Regions from separate parts of the Homo sapiens genome. Here region 1 is linked to region 2. The links come from fine-mapping of genetic effects on gene expression. A gene starts in region 2. The other region holds a variant in brackets. All regions are shown on one strand. Distances are between the middles of the regions.

What was found. PIP is the estimated chance that this variant, and not a neighbour inherited with it, causes the effect.
Region 1: its variant is fine-mapped to the expression of SYNRG in whole blood (TOPMed, PIP above 0.99).

What each region holds. Positions count from the first base shown.
Region 1 is chr17:37,536,693-37,539,604 of GRCh38, forward strand. It overlaps SYNRG (synergin gamma), which reads right to left. Exons shown (of 22, transcript NM_007247.6): 17 at 2,500-2,553; 18 at 1,632-1,728. Among named protein-coding and RNA genes, the nearest start is that of DUSP14, 48 kb to the left of the region's middle. The variant G/T (reference allele first, on the strand shown) is at 1,548.
Region 2 is chr17:37,608,116-37,611,027 of GRCh38, forward strand. It overlaps SYNRG (synergin gamma), which reads right to left and starts at 1,303. Exons shown (of 22, transcript NM_007247.6): 1 at 1,164-1,303. The coding sequence starts at 1,240. It overlaps DDX52 (DExD-box helicase 52), which reads right to left. Exons shown (of 15, transcript NM_007010.5): 15 at 1,624-2,912.

The DNA.
Region 1 (2,912 bases), 71 kb before region 2:
TCTTACAAACACTTTGACTTCACTTATCTTTAAACACATAACAGGATGCAGAACAGTTCTTTTCCTATGGTCTCTAAATTGTGGTTGAACTCTTGAAGCAAGGATGAGAGGTGCTAAGTACCTCCACATTCTAAGGACAGCCACCAGACACATCCCTAACCCCTGCAATGTAACAGTCACCAAAGACATGACCCCGATCTCTCTAAGTGAACACTGGAGGAATTCCAGGGGATCTTCAGAGCGGGGCCTCAGCAGCCCTGTGTCAGCACTACGGCTTTTCTTCTTCCTTTCCCAAGAGAGGGGCAGAAATTACTGCCCACCCTAAGCCAAGTGAGGGGGCTTCTAAGAGAATCTTCCATAGATACAAGGATACTAGGAGAAAAGACAGGTGCCCCATTTCCTGGTGGACATCTGCTTATGCAGAACTGTGCCTGTTTGAGCAGGAAAAGAAGACCCCAAGTGAGGTGGCAGGAGTAAGGCAGAGACTACATCCCTTCACTCTCCACTCATCCAGCAAATATTTTTGAGTGCCAACTACGTGCAAGACACTAGATTAGGTGTTGGGGACACACCAGTGAACAAAACAGACCAAAATCCTTGCCTTCTTGGAGGTTCATTCTAGTGAAGGGAGACAGAGAGTAAAAACAACAAGTAGCTAGGTGCAGTGGCTCACGCCTGTGATCCCAGCACTTCGGGAGGCCAAGGTGGGTGGGTCGCTTGAGCTCAGGAGTTCGAGACCAGCCTGGGCAACATGGCGGAAACCTGTCTCTACAAAAACTACAAAAATTAGCTGGGTGCATGGTGGTGCACACCTGTGGTTCCAGCTACTTGGGAGGCTGAGGTGGGATGATTGCTTGCGCCTGGGAGGTGGACGCTGCAGTGAGTCATGACTACATCACTACACTCCAACCTGGGTGACAGAGTGTGAACCTGTCTTAAAAAAGAAAAGAAAAGAAAAGAATAATAAGTAACATATGTAAGAAATTAAAGGTAATAGGGCTAAGGAGAAAATCCAGCAGAGAATGGGATGGGAAGTACCGGGGTAGGGAGAGACGATACTCTTTGGAGAGATGGATGCTAGGAAAGATTTCACTCAGAAGCTGACATTTGAGTAAAGATTTGAAAAAGATTAGGGTCCAGCATGTGTGGCTCTGGCCACGGGCCAAGCCTGAGCTTGGGGAAGGGAGGAACACCGAAGTGGACAGAGACTACACTTTCCCGTTGGACTGACACATCAAATTGCTGCAGATGGCCAGGAGGTTAAGGACTCTGTGGTGTCATTAAGCGGTCGAGAGAAAGAATATAGAGTATGGTAAGGAATTGATGGGAGACAAGATGATTTTACTTTAGTGCATCGGTAGTTCAGATTCTTTGATAAACCAGTAACACAGATATAATTTTACATTTTTGCTATTACGTATATAACAAGGATGAGGAAACTTAGCCATAGAGACTTTTTAATTAAGTCCAATAGTTTACTGCCTGTAGCTTGAGTGTCTTACCCACAAATACAGATGCTTCTTACTGAAGTCATATGTAACTTGAGA[G/T]ATCTAGCTTAAAATAATTAAAGGGAAAACTGAAAATAATGCAAAGGGCCATCATTTTCAATAGTAAAATATGAAAGAACATACCTAATAAATATTCCATGCCTTGAGCTGACTGAATTACTTCTGTGCAAACAGAACTACTACTGATTCCATTTAAGGTATCATTTGCCTTCTTAATGACCTACAAGAAATGAAATCACATCACCTTACATAACTGAGAAAAGTCATTGCAAATCAATTTACTATTAGTAGAAAACCCAACCGAAAAGCCAGGAGGTGTCAAAAAATCTCATTTTATCCTTGAAGAAACAATCCTCCATTTCTCTGGAAGAGAAAATATGTTTTTTTCCTTTTGTTTTGTTTTGCTTTGTTTTGAGACGGAGTCTCGCTCTGTAGCACAGGTTGGAGTGCAGTGGCAAGATCTCGGCTCACTGAACCCCTGACTCCCGGGTTCAAGTGATTCTCCTGCCTCAGTTTCCTGAGTAGCTGAGATTACAGGCACGTGCCACCACGCCTGGCTAATTTTTGCATTTTTAGTAGAGACAGGGTTTCACCATGTTGGTCAGGCTGGTCTCAAACTCCTGACCTCGTGATCCGCCCGCCTTGGCCTCCCAAAGTGCTGGGATTATAGGTGTTGAGCCACCGCACCCAGCCAAGACAGGTTCTTTAGCTTAAATATTATTTTGATTTAGTCAGAGTTAATGAAATCACTTTGTTATTTCTTAAACACAATGACAGATGAGGGGATGACTGACACATGAGCCGGTCTGCTATTGTAAGTGTGAAAGAAGCCTCACCTTAGATGCATGACTTCCACAGAGTTACTCTTTGCCCAGGGACATCCAAGTAAGGCTCTCCTGAAGTTTGCCTCTGTCAATTCAAATGAACCAAGAAGGCAAAAAGGCACAAAAGAGCACTCACATATGTGTGAACGCGTAAGTGACATACTCACATTCAGGGCACTCCCCAGGCATCTCTGCCATTCATATGCATATCTCTCATTTTCCTGTGAATTTGTTAAAAAGAACTGGGTTAAACACACAAACCTGGAATCTTCTATTGATGACTCTGTCAATTCAAAGTGCTTGGAGGACTTTCCTTTTTATTACGATCACTCTAGTTCAAGCAGTTTATGTTTTTTTTGTTTTTGTTTTTGTTTTGAGATAGGGTCTTGCTCTGTTGCCCAGGCTGAAGTGCAGTGGCATGATTTCTGCTCACTGCACTGGACGCAAGCAATCCTCCCACCTCAGCCTCCAGAGCAGCTGGGACTACAGGCACGCACCACCACATGAGGCTAATTTTTGTATTTTTGGTAGAGGTGGGGTTTCACCATGTTGCTCAGGCTTGTCTTGAACTCCTGAGCTC
Region 2 (2,912 bases):
AAGCAAAAAGTTTAAAAATCTAAAGTTAAAGATGTGCAGAGGAAATGAAAAATGGGGTTACACACAGGTGGTTTATTGAACAGCCACTGCTCGTTTCCTGACAAGCACCTGCAAGAGGTGATAACTTTAAGGTCCTTACACTTTTGTAGTGTTCACGACTCCGAAATTGAAACACTGCATATAAAAAAAAAACCTAACACTTCGTTTTCCAAAGACAATTTAGGATACTGAAGATGCAAAGCTACTTTTACCTCCAAATGTGTGTGCTGTTGTGTGTTGGTTAGTAAAACAAAATCAGACTAGGTCATTATAGAAGTGGAGTGAAAACTTCCTAGAATAAAATATTTCCTTAAATGATAACGAATCTGTCAGCTTGTAAAACGTACATCTCCCTTACCATTCTGGGTATAAGAACCACGGCAGTTCTTGGCTGAAATGTGGCAGAGGGCAGATTTGTTTAAGGGCTGAGTCTGGAAGCTTTGTTCTAATAAATGCGCAACTGCTGTTTAACAGTGCACTTTCTTTGTTTTTAAATGCCTTTTTAAAAAGAAGACAGACAAGTCTTAAGAGTTAGTGTACAAGACAAGAACTCTATCTCAAGACCATTACTAATTCAGAGGTCTTTAGATGTTCCTGCTGTTTGTCGCGGGTTAAGGAAATAAAGAGGACAGGACACTCTAAAAGGGGAAGAGACAAATAGTCCACACACACACCCCCCTTGGAAACAGTCCTCCAGCTTTGTGAACAGATTTTTAAAGCCCTCCCTCCAACATATCCGGTTAAGTCTAGAAAGCCCAAGGAAAGGGAAGACCCTGGTCGCTTCAGAGGCAGCTAGGACTAGGAGCGGAGTCGCGGTTCCTGATTTGCCCCGCCCCCCCCCACCCCAAGAGGACCCTCATCTTCTCTCCCCTCCCACACTGGGCGCGCGCTCGCTCCCCGCTCGATTCCAGGCGGCCGGCGCCCCCAACTGATCCCGGAACACCAGCGTCCAGCACCTGGGCTCCACACGCCCCTTTCGGCCTGGGTCCCTGGGGGATGACCCTCCTCCCGCAGCCCAGTTCCAAGGAAAAGGATCAGGGCTGGAGAAAACTGCCATAACTGCCAAGCGCCCCTCGCCGCCCCCGCGGAGGCCAGCGGGCTCCCGCCCGGCTCTTCACACCTACCCGCCTCCCCCGGCGGACCCCGCGCCAGCTCCCGCGGCCCCGCCGCCACCAGAACCAGCTCCTGGCCGCAGCGCCATCTTGCTCCCGACCTGCCGCTGCCTTCGCCGCCGCCACCTTATCAGCAGCTGTCAGCTGAACACAGCCACTTCCGGGTCAAACACCAGGCCCCACCTCGCCGCGGACCGGGCGATGGGGCGGGGCCTCGCGCCCACGTGACTCCCCCGGCCCTCGGGGAGGCGTGGCGCGCCCACGGCACGTGACCCGGCGCCGCAGGGGTCCCCCAGATTCAATTCTAGCTCTCGGGCTGGTGGGGCGGTCGCGGGCGCCTCTCCAAGGGAGCTGATTCATTGTCTGGTAGGCCCTCTGCAGGGCCCAGCTGGCGGCCCAGTGGCAAAGCGCCGTTGGTCCTCCGTTTGAAAACCATGATCGCGGTTAGTGGAAAGAGTAGGCTGAGTCCTGATTTTTAAACTATACGGTGGGTACACTGGTGTTCTTTTATTGTTACTCTTTACACACAAAGAACAGATAGGTCCTGAAGGGCCCTTTGATAGTCTCGCAGCACTGATGAGTGATCAGCTCTCCCCTCTTTCTCTGGAACTCGGTAGCTTCATGTTGGCACCTATCACAGACGCTGAAGGCATTTAAATTTTATTTTAAATCAACCAAGAGCCCAAAAACCCAACCCATATTTCGAAAAAACTCCAAGGTGTACTACTCTTGTTTGGTTCTGCCATCCTGCCACCTTACAGTCCTTTTGTTTTTCCTATTCTTGCAGGCAAGTGCAAAACAGTGGTTTTTGGAAGGCAATTCATAATTACTCTGAAGCTATTTCGGCATATTTTTTACTGATTTTTTTTTTTTTTGAGACAGGGTCTTGCTCTGTTGTCCAGGCTGGAGTGCAGTGGCATGATCATGGCTCACAGCAGCCTCAGCCTCCCTGGCTCAAGCGATCCTCTCGCCTCAGCCTCCTGAGTAGCTGGGACCACAGGCATGCACCACCACACCGGGCCAATTTTTTTTTTTTTTTTTTTTTTTTTTTTTGTAGAGATAGGATCTATGTTGCCCAGGCTAGTTTCAAACTGCTAGGCTCAAGCTATGCTCCCACCTCGGCCTCCAAGTGCCAGGGTGTGAGCCACATGCCTGGGCTGTGATTTTTTTTTTTCTTTTAATCAAACTACTGTCTGGAAGTAAAACATGAAAGTTGAGTAATTTTCTCAAGCACGTAGTTTGCTTGCTAACAAGTAATGGATTAATTAGCTTTACGTTTTCACTCTTGTCTCAAGGTTTTTACTGGGTAATAATTTGTAATAAGTTATTAGGCACAAACCACTGGTCAGGAACTGTACACGCATTTTAAAAAATCCTCAGTATCCTTAGGAGTTACAATTGGCATCTTACAGATGAGAAAATCAAGGTTAGAAACAGTTACTGTCATTTGTCCAGATCATACAGCTACAAGCAATGAGGATCAGGATTCAAATCCAGGCCAGTTTGACTCTAAAGTCCTTGCTCATTTCACCAGAGCCAGCTATTCAATTTTTATGTTTTTTCTTTTGCTGTAACTGCCTGTTCACTAATTTCACTCCTTCCCTTCCTTGTGTGAAGCTGAAATTTATGTAGCACATAGTTCCAACTGCTTTGAAGGAGCTAAATTTAGTATTAATACACTGACTAAGTTGATACAGGTTACTGTAGATACTTTAAACAGACACAATAAAGTCAAGGATCATAGATGTGACCTCAGTTTGT